Homo sapiens: one gene and its partner. The protein of the gene in region 2 purifies or fractionates together with the protein of the main gene of each other region. This does not show direct contact. Each region holds a gene or a part of one and is shown on either strand. Other genes may lie near its edges.

Region 1 (7,032 bases), on a different chromosome or scaffold from region 2:
TTCTCAAAAGAAGACATTTATGCAGCCATAAGACACATGAAAAAATGGTCATCATCACTGGCCATCGGAGAAATGCAAATCAAAACCACAATGAGATACCATCTCACACCAGTTAGAATGGCGATCATTAAAAAGTCAGGAAACAACAGGTGCTGGAAAGGATGTGGAGAAATAGGAACACTTTTACACTGTTGGCACTGTAAACTAGTGCAACCATTGTGGAAGTTGGTGTGGCAATTCCTCAGGGATCTAGAACTAGAAATACCATTTGACCCAGCCATCCCATTACTGGGTATATACCCAAAGGATTAGAAATCATGCCGCTATAAAGACACATGCACACGTATGTTTATTGCAGCACTATTCACAATAGCAAAGACTTGGAACCAACCCAAATGTCCAACAATGATAGACTGGATTAAGAAAATGTGGCACATACACACCATGGAACACTATGCAGCCATAAAAAAGGATGAGCTCATGTCCTTTGTAAGGACATGGATGAAGCTGGAAACCATCATTCTCAGCAAACTATCGCAAGGACAAAAAACCAAACACCGCATGTTCTCACTCATAGGTGGGAATTGAAAAATGAGAATACATGGACACAGGAAGGGGAACATCACATACCGGGGCCTGTTGTGGGGTGGGGGGAAGGGGAGAGGGATAGCATTAGGAGATATACCTAATGTTAAATGACGTGAGTTAATGGGTGCAGCACATCAACGTGGCACATGTATACATATGTAACTAACCTGCACGTTGTGCACATGTACCCTAAAACTTAAAGTATAATTAAAAAAAAATAGAACCTTGAGAGAAAAAAGCAAGCTATTTAGGGATATTTATAGTATAATATCACTTATGTAAAATTAAAACCCATAGCATAAATGCTCTATATTATTTATGAGAAAGCAAACATCTAATAAAAATATAAAAACAGTGAATTGAGCTTGTAATTATCTCTAGGGAAAGAAAAAGGAAAATCAGATTAGAGATGGTTATATAGTATCAAAAATGCTTCAACTTTATCTCTAGTTTTATTTCTTTAATGAAAAAGGATCCATGATAAATATGAAAATAATGATAAATCATATTGAGTCTATGTGGAAAGTTTACAGATACTTGCCATTTTATGTACATTTATGCTTCACAATCCTCTGTCCTTTTTAAAGTACTGTATAATTTTTAAAAATACTTCATAATTTTAAAAAACACATACTACATATTTTTTTAAAAGTTTCCCATGAAAATATTTCATCAGTCATGAAAAGTTCCTATCCCACATACAAATATCTGTATAAACACTACAAATGGAGATCACTTCCTTCATTTTTTACTAAACGCCATTTTAAGACACATGCTATATGTTGCTTAAGGACTAGAAACTAGGTAATGTCAGAAGAAATGTAAATAGCGATAATATGTTACAGAAAAAGTAGCAAGGATCAAATAAAGATGCCATGAAGAGCAAGAAAGGTCCAAATGGCATAAAATTGAAAGAGGTGTCCAGAGGTTAGTCCAATGCTCAAAAAACATCCTTGGTATTAAATGAGAAGCCAAAGATGTTACTGTCAAAATTTTTTTTTAAACAGGTGTGAAAAAAGTTTCTACTTGAATTTTAACTAGGGGGCACTTAGAGAATATGAAGCAGGGCACATGTCAACAATATGATTTATTACTAAGGCTATAATAAATGTCAAGGTTTTTCTCTGGAAGTCAAAACATTAATTATTAAGATCCCACGAGGTTCCCATAGCAACATACCTGAAGAAGGAGCCTTTCAAAAGCCAGAAAGTTGTCCCACTTGGCAGTCTGTGGGTGTTTCAACGTTTGAGCTGTGGCCAGTCCAAGCTGGAGGAGGCCACAATGATTCATTAGAGCTTTGAGGTTGTTCTTGAAGAGCTGAATATAGGACATGAGCTGTCCCGGTGTGACTCTCCCTGGAAACATAAGAATTTATCAGTGTACCCCCTTCTGGGAATAGTACAAATAATGAGAAGGATTCCATTAATAATACCACTGTCTTGTATTTGGGCAGAACTTCAGAGCTGACTGCAAGCTTTCCTAAGCTATTGTGATTCTTACAACTATATAGTGACAAGAGCAAAACTGGTCCTATTATTAATACCTGCATTTTGCAAGTAAGGAAACAGGGATGCTAATTAAGGGATCTGGCCAAGGTCATGTTGCCAGTAGAATTCATTTTATCATTATGTAATACTCTGTAAATAAATTTTCAAATAAAGTCACACAAATAAATATTTGTTGAGCTCAACTTGGAGTACCTCTTTATGACATATGACATAGCAATCTAAGAGGGAAAAAGATAAGATTTCTAATTGTGTGTGTATGTACCTAAAAGAAGATGAGAAATAGATTATTTCTCATCTAAAACTTTACCATTGATATCAGTGAGTTCATGACAATATTCGTGAGATAAAAGCAGTTACATGGAACAAAAATGTATCAAGAACTACAGTGCAAAACCACTGGAAGAGGAGGTATCAGAAGAAAGGGTTGGTGTGGGGAACAGCACATTTGCTACAATGGTCACCTACATTTAGAACAAGAGAGCCTACCTCATAAAAGCATAGAGACTATACAAACACTTGTACATCTACAAACACACAAACTGTTGAGGATTCACTCCTTCAGAGCCCCTAACTCCAAGTTTTGCCAATAGCTGTCTTTCCACCGAGTCTCCTCCCACTCTCCAGTCTGTAAAATTTCATTCCTGCCATTCCTCCATGCTATGCGCAAAGCTCTTGGACATCGGATTCTCCCCACCAGGCAAAAAGGCAATGGGGCCAAACATAGATGTAAGCCAAGTAATTCATTCCTATATGTTTCACCCATGCCATGTTTGTGGGTTGTTCTTTGATACTGAAATCCAAGTTTATTTGCTTGTTATAAACTTGTTATAAACTGAAATCCAAGTTATTTGCTTGTTAAGTATTTGGCAATGAAACCACCTGCATTTATTTAGCAATTTACACAGTGCTTACACAAACACACCCTTTACTGATTCTCATGGCAACTCCTTGAGGTAGAAAACGAGGCTTGTGCTGCATCTATTAGTCCTGCCTGACGTGCTAAGAAAGTAATGTCTTACCCAGTGCTAAATGGCAGATATCACTTAATAAATGGTTTTTGCTAAAAGTAAAGACCTTGCCACATGAAACTCAAAAGCCTACAACATATCTTTCTATCTTTTCATTAATTTTTTTGAAGAGATAAAGAATGTTTAAGTTCTTCATTACCAGTTTATCAGGGTAAGCATTTAAAGAAAAAGAACAGTGGGAATAAGTAGGAGGGTGAGTCTCATGAGTTTCTTTGGTCCCTTGGTAAAGCATGGGTTTGTTCCTGATTCTCAAAGCAGCAAGCTAACAATCTGCTTGCTCAAGTACTCATAGAAAAAAACCTCATTAATACTTTGTTTCTTTATCAGGTTTATTAAGGTATTTTCTACATACAGTAAAATTCAGCCTTTTCTAGTGTACAGTTCTATGAATTTTGACAAATGGATATGGTTGGATAACCACTGTCACAGTCAAAATACAGAACATTCCCATCATTCCAAACAGCTCCCCTTCTTGGTAGTCCATTCACTTTCCCTAGTTCCAGCCCTGTTGGTTGATGAACCCTTATCCGTGTTTATCTGATTTCCATCTCACAGTTTTGTCTTTCTAGAGTGTCACATAAATGGAATCACATAGTATGTAGCCATTTGAGTCTGGCTTCTTTCACTGAACCATAATGTATCTGAGATTCATCCACGTTGCTGCTTGTATTAGTAGTTTGCTCTTTTTTCTTGCTGAGTGATATTTCATTGTGTGGATGTATCATAGTTTATTTAGCCATTTATTTATCTATTCACTAGTTAATGAGTATTTGGGTTGCTTTCAATTTTTTAGAAATTATGAATAAAGCCTTCACAAACATCTGTGTACAGGTCTTTGTGTGTGTGTGTGTGTGTGTGTGTATACATATGTTTCATTTTCCTTTAGGCAAATTTCTAGGAGCAGGTTTCTAGGACAGATGTTAAGTATATGCTTACTTTTAATTTTTTTTTAATTCTTAAGCTTTATTTTATCACTCTTATCAAACATATCAGAAAGCATATCAACAGTGCATCTTATGTTAAGTTTACAACAAAATTGAACAATGTAATTGTGTTTGATGAAAAAGTTTTATAGCAAAAAAGCGTACAATACAGTCCATTGAAATGCAGGGTTCATGCTTTTTAGGTACGTTAAAAAGTGGAAAATAAAAGACCTCTGCTACTCAGCAACATCAAACAAGTTTAAAAGACTTGAGTGGAAATCAGATACTTAGGGGTTTGTGAAAAAAACTTCTTGGTACTGACCCACATATACATTTATAGTTTCATTTAGTTATTTTTTTTTAATTTTTATTTTAGGTTCAGAGGTACATGTACTGGTTTGTTATATAGGTAAACTCGTGTCATGGGGATTTGTGGTACAGAATGTTTTGTCACCGAGGTACTATGCCTAGTACCCAATAGTTATTTTTTCTGATCCTCTCCTTCCTCCCACCCTCCACCCTCAAGTAAGCTCCAATATCAGCTGTTCCCCTCTTAGTGTCCATGTGTTCCCATCATTTAGCTCCCACTTATAAGTGAGAACATGCAGTATTTAGTTTAAGCACATGTTTAATTTTATAAGAAATTGGCAAACTGATTTCCAAAGTGGGCTGTACCACCAGCAACATATGAGAGTTTTAGTTGCCTTACAACTTCACCAACACTTGGTTTTGTCAGCTATTTTTATTTTAATGATTCTAACAGATGTGTAGCAGTATCTCATTGTGGTTTAAAATTTCATTTTCCTAATGACTAATGATGTTAACCACCTTTTCATGTGTGTCTTTTGCCATCCTATATCTGTTTTGGTGAAGTGTCTGGTCAAATCTTTTGCTCATTTTTTAATTAGGTTGTTTGTTTTCTTATTACTGAGTTGTGAGTGTCATTCACTTTTATTGATTCATTGATTCAACATATATTTCTGTAACAGGCACTATTCCTGTTTCTAGGAATAAACCTGTGAACAAATCCAGACAAAAACCCCTATGCTTGTAGCCAACAAATAAAGAAAACAACTCCTTGATGATCTCCTAATTAATTCAGCCTCTTACGTGTCATTCTCTCTAAAGGGATAGGGACCTTTTGTGCAAATGATTAACATTTTTAAGAAATGATATTCTCTGACATCTATTATATTAAATATGTAAGAACAAATTTTCACACAAAATGGTTTCAAAACTTAAGATTGCCATGAGCTCCATTTATTTATATAAACACTGTACTGCAGGTGATGGCAGTGTGGCTCCTAAACACATAGAACTTAGTCTATCAAGACAAACATTCATTTAATGATCATACAAATAATTACTTAATCATGATAGTGGTAAGTACTGCCAAAGAAAAATACAAAATGTCTTGAAGGTGTGAAAGGCTCTACATGATATGAAAACTGCCTACCTCTCCAACCCCATCTCCTCAACTGAAAGAAGAGGAATTAAATAGATTCAAAATATATACAATTCATTTCTTCTATAACTATGTTTTAGAGAGACTCCAGGAAACGGGAATCACCAGAGGAAGCCATCAGAGGATCTGCTCAGATTTCTATTGTAATAACCGTATGTTCATTTTAAAGATAAAAGTGTCTTTGATTAAAAAACAGTCCAGGCTCGGCGCGGTGGCTCACGCCTGTAATCGCAGCTCTTTGGGAGGCCGAGGCGGGCAGATCACGAGGTCAGGAGATGGAGACCATCCTGGCTAACACGGTGAAACCCCGTCCCTACTAAAAATGCAAAAAAATTAGTTGGGCTTGGTGGTGGGCGCCTGTAGTCCCAGCTACTCGGGAGGCTGAGGCAGGAGAATGGCGTGAACCCGGGAGGCGGAGCTTGCAGTAAGCGGAGATCCGGCCACTGCACTCTAGCCCAGGGACAGAACGAGACTCCGTCTCAAAACAAAAAACAAAAAAAAAAAAAACAGTCCTCGCCAGGCGCAGTGGCTCACGCCTGTAATCCCAGCACTTTTGGAGGCCGAGGTGGGTGGATCACTCGAGGTCCAGGGTTGGAGACCAGCCTGACCAACAAGGTGAAACCCTGTCTCTACTAAAAATTCAAATATTAGCCGGGAGTGGTGGTGGGCACCTGTAGTTCCAGCTACTCAGGAGCTGAGGCAGGAGAATCACTTGAACCCGGGAGGTGGAGTAAGCCGAGATTGCACCACTGCATTCCAGCCTGGGAGGCAGAGAGAGACTCCATCTTAAAAAAAAAAAAAAAGAAAAAAGAAAGAGAAAAATTAGCTGGGCATGGTAGTGCTCACCTATAGTCCCAGCTACTCAGGCAGCTGAGGCAGGAGAATCACTTGAACCTGGGAAGTGGCCAAGATCGTGCCACTGCACTCCAGCCTGGGCGACAGAGTGAGACTCCATCTCAAAAAAAAAAAAAAAGTCAAATTTTTTATCCAATCAGCATTTCCTAGCTGAGACCCAGACTCAGCTACCATATTTATGTAACGTCACCTTCTCATATAAGGCATATGATCTAAAGGAACAAATGGGTATATCTCCTAACAGAAAATATCAACACCACACTACCTTGTGTTCCTTGCAGATTTAGTAGTTATTCACCTTCTCTACTCTGTTCTATTCCCCTTTGTATGTCGTTTTTTACACACTCATGACACTACTCCTTCGTTAGGTATAAATCACGACAGCAGATTTTTTTTTCCTAAAAATCCCTAAGAGGCTAACTGGAATTTAAGTTAAAAAGTAATTCACACAGATGCTCTAAAAAAAAAAAAAAAAGGCCAGTGACATTTTTAAAATTTTTAAATTTAACCATAACCTTACCAAAAGCAAATGGAAATCAACTAATTGACCATCAAAAATGCTGCAGTAAGACTAACCACTGAAGTAAAATTTCTTAGTTTATATAAACTAAAACAGCAAGCAACTAGACAAGTGTTGAAAAAGTAATGGACAGAATATTTATTCA
Region 2 (7,032 bases):
TTGTATAATGAGCATTTGTTAATAGACTGTTATAGTTTGTCAATTCCAAATGTCCTTTTTTACATTTCTGAAATTAGGATCTATCTTATCACTGATGATATGTCATAACTGGCAGCATTTTTATTTCTCAGTAGTATATAAAATATATTTTAAAAATTATGTTTTAAAATTGTTACCACCTTGGGTTTCATGAAATACGGTATTTGATGAGTTTTCCTTTCATTTTTATGTCAGACTGAAATAAGCAGGTTTGCTTTGATAATGTGTTAATTTTTATGGACTGAAGTAAAGTTTAACTTCATGCTATCCTTGGAAATTGTGGTTTATTAATAAACATTGAGTGCCATTGTCTCTGTACTAAGTGTTTAACTCCTTTATTTACTAATGGAAGGACTGAAGTTTAGAAGGCTTAAGTGATTGTCTCACATTTGTACAACCAGTTAATAACAGAGCCATGGCCACATTGCTTGACCACTAATTCTGTGCTGTTTATCTACTGAACTGTAATGGCTCAGTAACAGTAACTAACAGAAGTGAGGCCTTACTCAGTACTTCATTCAGGGGTAATAGGATAGTCTACCAGTTTGAGAGTCTCGTAATCTCTGCCTAACTTGCTACTTGCCACCAGAGCATGGAAATATTACACAGCTACCATGGTGAACTCTTGTGTACTTTGCCTCCAACCATTCTCCTCTATTTGCTGGAGAATACTGTATCAGTTACTTTATACCCTGCAAGCTGGTTTAGGCTAATTTGTAGGAAACAGTAATTACAAGTTTCCACAGTATGAAATGGTGGTTGTAGCCCATTAGACAGTTGGACAAGCAGTGTGAAAAAGACCACAACCTATGGCAGCCATCACATTATCATTCTTGATATCAGTGGCAACAGTTATTAAACACAGACTCACTGGCAGCATGTGCCTCTTTCCTCTCTCTCCTTGATTATAGAAGGATGACTAGAGAGAGGTGAATATTCCTCATATAAGCATGGTTTGATGTTGGGATATTTGTATGGAAATTGTTCCTAAATTGTAAAAGGAGAAAACTGTAAAATGACTTAATCTATAAGATGCTTACATTCTCTTATGAAACAATAAATAGACAAAAATAGATTGTCTTTAATTTTTAAGGAAACATTTATATACCTTTCATTTAAAAAATATATTTGATTTCATGTTTGGTTAAATTTTTTTATAGCTTCTAAAGAATTGCTTCTAAAATTTTTTTCATTGCGTCCCCTAGCTTTCTGATTTTCCCCTCAGAGAGCCACACTTTCCTCACATTCACCCTTCCCCTCTGACCACCACATTTCTATGAAAAGTGGGAATAAGATTGATTCTGAATATGTTTTAGTTCTCATTCAAGGAGAGTGTTGGTAGAAAAGAATGTCTGACCATAAGCAGTGCTAAAAGTGTGAGCAGAATAGAACAAATGAAGACTAACAAGAAATTAGGGTCTTACTAATGCTAATAAATAATAACAACACTGACATGGGAGAAAGATAGGTTAACTCACTGATTAATTGCAACAAGAGCTTTTAGAGCACTGGTTACTGTCCTTGAGCTAGTGAACTCCCATTTTGAGGAATATTGTTTTAAATAAGTGAATAAAAAAATAAGTTTTAGTTCCTTATGTCTTCTAGGCTTTTACACTCTGATCGAGATCCTATTCCAGATGTTCCTGCAGTATACTTTGTAATGCCAACTGAAGAAAATATTGACAGAATGTGCCAGGTAATATGGGTTCTTATTTTCTGGACTCCTGAATTTGGAAATGGATTTTTTTTTCAAGAAAAATTCCTAGATGTCCAGGGTGAAAAATCAGAAATTCCTATGCCTACTTTCTCACTCTGATTTTTGAGACTATCTTTGAATTCCAAATAGCCTGAAAGACTTAAAACTTTTGGCTGAAGAAGTATTATACAGTAGTCCTCTCATGTCCACAGTTTCACTTTCCACAGTTTCAGTTATCCACAGTTAACCAGGTACTGAATATATTACAGTATTTTGAGAGACCACATTCATATAACTTTCATTACAGAATATATTTTCTGTAATATATTTCATTACAGAATATATTTTATAATTGCTCTATTTTATTTCTAGCTATTGTTGCTAATCATTTACCGTGCCCAATTTATAAATTATAAATTAAGTTTTATCATAAATATGTATGTATAGGAAAAAACATATACGGTTCAGTACTACCTGGTTTCAGGCATCCACTGGAGTCTTGGAAAATAACCCCTGCAAATAAGGGCAACCACTGTACTGGTAAAGTCTGAGTCTGGCTTTAACAAACAGAAAGCCTAGGTATATTGCCTTTCTAACTTATATAGGGTTTTCCTTTTCTAAAATAAGGGTGAGATTAGGAAGTCCACACTGGTGCAGAAGTACTATAAGGTAATCAAAGACCCAGGCTCCTTCTGTCGCTGATCATTCGTCTTTAGTTTGTTGGTTTTCCTTGTCTTGCTTGTCGCTGCGCCTGTAGGCATCAAATCTATGTTCACATCAACAAGAAGAGGGACATGGACTGTGCCAGCCCTGACTGTTGATTTTGATCAGGAATTTAAGCCTTTCCAGAAACTCCCAGAAGACCTTTATTTATTTCTCACTAGGTAGAATCAGTTACAAGGGTGGCTGCAAAAGTCAATATTTAGATGAGTCACCCCAAAGAAAATCTAGCAAGATTCTTTTAGCAAGGAAAAGGAGAAAAGTAGATATTGGATAGGTAAGTAACAGTGTCTTCCACAAGTCACAACATCTTTGTTATTGACTGTTGAATCAAATTGCTATTTAAATTGTTAGTGACGTTTGCAAATTTTGTGTCCTGTGTAGCTTTATGATGCCCAGCTTTCTCTTTTACCCTGCGTAAACTCAAGTATGCTATTCATGAAAGAGGTACCACTTGCAATCTCTTCTTCTTTCATTATTTAAATAACACCTTTATTGAAATTATAATTTACATACCATACAATTCACACATTTAAGGAGCACAAGTGTATGGTTCATTGGTTTTTAATATAGTCACAGAGTTTTGCAACCATCACCACAGTCAATTTTAGAACATTGTCATTACCTCAAAAAGAAACCTGGTACCATTTATCACATCCTCAACCCTCCCCCATCCTCTTCCATCCCTAAGCTACCTTCTGTTTCTGTATATTTGCCTACTCTGACCATTACATATGAATGAAATCCTATAATATGTGGTCTTTTGTATATGGCTGATTTCTCTTAGCATAATGTTTCCAAGGTTCATCCATATTGTAGCATGAATTGGTACCTTATTCCTTTTCGTGGCTGAATATATTCCATTGTATGGATGTACGAAATTTTATTCATCCTTTTACCACTTGATGGACATTTGGATTGTTTCTACCTTTTGGCTATTAATAATGTTGCCATAAATATTCATGTGCAGGTTTCTCTGTGGACATGTTTTCAATTCTCTTGTGGCCGTAAACACATAGGAATAAAATTGCATGGTCAAATGATAACTCTATGTTTACCTTTTTAGTAATAGACTGTTTTGCGAAGTGTGGTTGCACCATTTTATATTCCCACCAGTAGTGTGTGAGGGTTCTGATTTCTCCAGATCCTTGCTGAACACTTACTATCCGATATTTTTATTGTAGCCATCCTAATAGGTTTGAAGTGGCATCTCATTATAGTTTTGATTTGCATTTCTGTAATTAATGATATTAAGCATCTTTTAACATGCTTATTGGCCATTTGTATGTCTTTCTAGAAATATCTATTCAGATCATTCACCCAGTTTTTAATTGGGTTGTCTTTTTATTGTTGAGTTGATAGAATTCTTTTTCTGTTTTGGATACTAGACACTCACAAGTTTATGATTTGTAAATATTTTCTCCCAGTCTATGGGTTATCTTTTCATTCTCTGGATAATGTCCTTTGAAGCACAAACATTTTTGATTTTGATGAAGCCCAGTTTATCGGTTTTTTTTTTTCTTGAGTTGCTTATGCTTTTGGTGTCATATTTAGGAAACCATTCCAGATTCTTGTGTTTTCTTCTAAGAATTTTATAGTTTTGGCTCTTACCTGTAGGTCTTGATTCCCCTTTGCATTATTTTTATATATGGTGGGATGTAGGTGTCCAACTTTATTCTTTTGCATGTGGCTATCCAGTTGTCCCAGCGTAATTTATTAAAGAGACTATTCTTTCCCTAGTGAATGGTCTTGGCAGCCTTGTCAAAAATCAGCTGACCACAGATATCTTGTTTGATTTCTGAACTCTCAGTTCTATTGCATTGATATCTATGTCTTTCCTTATGCCTGTACCACACAGTGTTGATATCTCTTGCTTGATAGCAAGTTTTGAAATTGAGAAATTGTGTCCTCCAACTTTGTACTTTTTTTCAGACTGTTTTGGCTTTTCTTGAATTTCCAAATTACGATTAGCTTGTCATAAGTTTTGTGCTTCTTTTGTTAAATTTATTCTTTCATGTGTTTAATGCTTATTATGAATGGAATTCTTAATTCCATTTTTAGGATTCTTCATTGCAATTGTATAAAAATTCAATTGATTTTTATGTATTTATCTTGTATCCTGCAACCTTGCTGAACTTATATGTCCTTTTGAAATGTATGCATCATTCTTTGACCACTTCCTTACTTTCTGGCACAATAAGATGTTCCAATATAGCCTAGGATTTTACTTTCTCTGTCTCAGCCCAGGATTCAGACATTTTTCTGAGGAGCTCTGGTTGCTTTCTGTAAAGAATGGTATTTAGGAATCAGGATCTAGGCATTAGGTATATTCATTGTGACTAGAGTGTCACTGTTCTTAGGTCCTCTCAATGGAAAAAGTTAGGAAATTATGTATTTATACATACACTTTTATATCTGTATTTATTTCTACAATTCTCCCTCTCTTCCCCTCACCTATCCAGATAAACAGATAACCTCCAAAACTGTTTCAGCTCAGCAACACAGGATTCACTCTAGCGTTTCCCTTTTCTCTTTACAAATTTGTAACTCCTTTCTCAGAGTGAAAAACATGGTTCCCAGTATCGTGAACATATTACTTATTTCTCAATCCTCATACATAAATAATTTCTTGACCTTGATTGAACCACTACCCTGATCACCTTCCTCACAAAGGCTCCAACCCCTCAATGTTTCACATTTTAACATCGCTAAAATCAGGTGCATCTTAAAATTGATCATGCCACAAAATTTTATTGGCATCATTAATTCTTAGTGTTACATAAAATGATGGTTCTTGTTACAGTCAATGACATCTTAGATTTAAGGAAGTATGGTTATTTCGATATCTATTTGCTAAAAGTATAAGAAGATAAGTAAATTTGACTTAAGAATTTGCATAACTTAAATTGCACTACTTTTGAGCAGTTGAAAAGAAATACCTCTAGAATTGGTAATTGGATTTATAACTTGTCTGTGTGCAATGAAGGATTTGTTGTGTCATCACATGTCCAGAACAGTTGAAGATCGTGTCTGCCAAATATAACAAGCATTTTACTATATTAGTGGACCATATCTGGATATTTTAAGAAGAATGCAGATAGGCTGTATGAAAGCAGTTTGTACTGTATTGTAATTAATGAGATTTTGTTGATAATATAATTTTATTACTTTATTAAGAAACATTTTAGTTACATCTGATAACCAGATAACCAGTACTACTTCAAAGGTTTTTTCTCTTGGGATACTTTTTTTGATTGTCATTTAAATATCCTGTCTTTTAAATATAACTTTGCCTTATAGTAGTTGAAACATATGTATTCATGGTCTTCTTTATCCTATAAGAATAAAGTTTTCATTGTATTGATAGGATCTTCGAAATCAACTATATGAATCATATTATTTAAATTTTATTTCTGCTATTTCAAGAAGTAAACTGGAAGATATTGCAAATGCAGCGTTAGCAGCTAGTGCAGTAACACAAGTAGCCAAGGTAAGAGAGTTTGGTGGGTTGATGACATTTTGTCAATGTAAAATTTAACACTGTTCTGAAACCCGTAGTTGGCATAGATATCTATTTGACAGATGACCAGAACAACAGAATTGTTTAGGCTCAATACTTTTATAAAGAGTTCTGATAATATAAATTATATTCAAGTTGAACTAGGCAAAATAAGCCAAACTAAAGGAACCTATTATTTAATGAATTTGAAAGACAGAAATAAAAAGCAGAATGAGTTTTGCTTTAGTCTGTGATTTGTATAATATTTTTAGGTCAACTCAGAAATCATTTGACAGTTGTATTGTCATAAACTGTATTGAAAGTATGTTGACATTGTTTTATCTGTAATCATTATAATCATCATACTATTTCCAGATATTTTTTTTACTTAGGAAAGAGGATCCAAAGTGCCCGTGTTGCATATTGAGATCCAAAGTGCCTCTGTTGCATATTAAGAGAAAAAGAACCCATGACAGGCCTGCAATTCTACATCATAGTGACTTTTTAGTCAGGTTCAGCTTCAGTTATAAATCAATTTGTAAAATATATTTCAGGTTATAATCCTGTAATGCTCTGTGTTTCTTGAATTTGGACAAGATATGCATTAAAGTTCCAGACAACTATCTAGGACAAATAAAAGACTAAACAACCATGCATATACTTTCTATTCTTTTTCTACTGATAGATTTTTCATTGTTAGAGTTAAATAGACCACTAATATTTCTGATTAGTTTTTGAGGCTTATGCCTTTAATCTTTGTGCTCAAAATTTATTAACTTCACATAAAATAATGGGAACAACTTTTGTTTTCCTTCTTGTTTTGTTTTGAGACAGTGTCTCGCTCGCCCAGGCTGGAATGCAGTGGTGCAATCACTGCTTGCTGCAATCTTCAGCTCCTGGGCTCGTACCACCCCACCCAGCTAATTTTTTTAATATGTTGCCCAGGTCTCAAACTTCTGGCCTCAAACAGTCCTCCCACCTCAGCCTCCCAAAGCTCTGGGATTACAGGTGCAAGCCACCTCACTCAGCCTTAATTTGGTTAACTAAATTCAGTGTATTTCAAATAGTTCTCTTAATT

What was found. The genes of interacting proteins can lie anywhere in the genome.
Region 1: the proteins of SCFD1 (region 2) and SCFD2 purify together in Homo sapiens (affinity purification with mass spectrometry; 2 studies listed by BioGRID and IntAct, with this or other methods). This does not show direct contact.

The regions. Positions count from the first base shown.
Region 1 is NC_000004.12:53,272,059-53,279,090, forward strand, and holds part of SCFD2 (sec1 family domain-containing protein 2), read right to left. Parts: intron 1,944-7,032; coding exon 1,768-1,943; intron 1-1,767. UniProt on the Homo sapiens protein: May be involved in protein transport.
Region 2 is NC_000014.9:30,632,303-30,639,334, forward strand, and holds part of SCFD1 (sec1 family domain-containing protein 1), read left to right. Parts: intron 1-1,644; coding exon 1,645-1,735; intron 1,736-5,822; coding exon 5,823-5,945; intron 5,946-7,032. UniProt on the Homo sapiens protein: Plays a role in SNARE-pin assembly and Golgi-to-ER retrograde transport via its interaction with COG4. Involved in vesicular transport between the endoplasmic reticulum and the Golgi.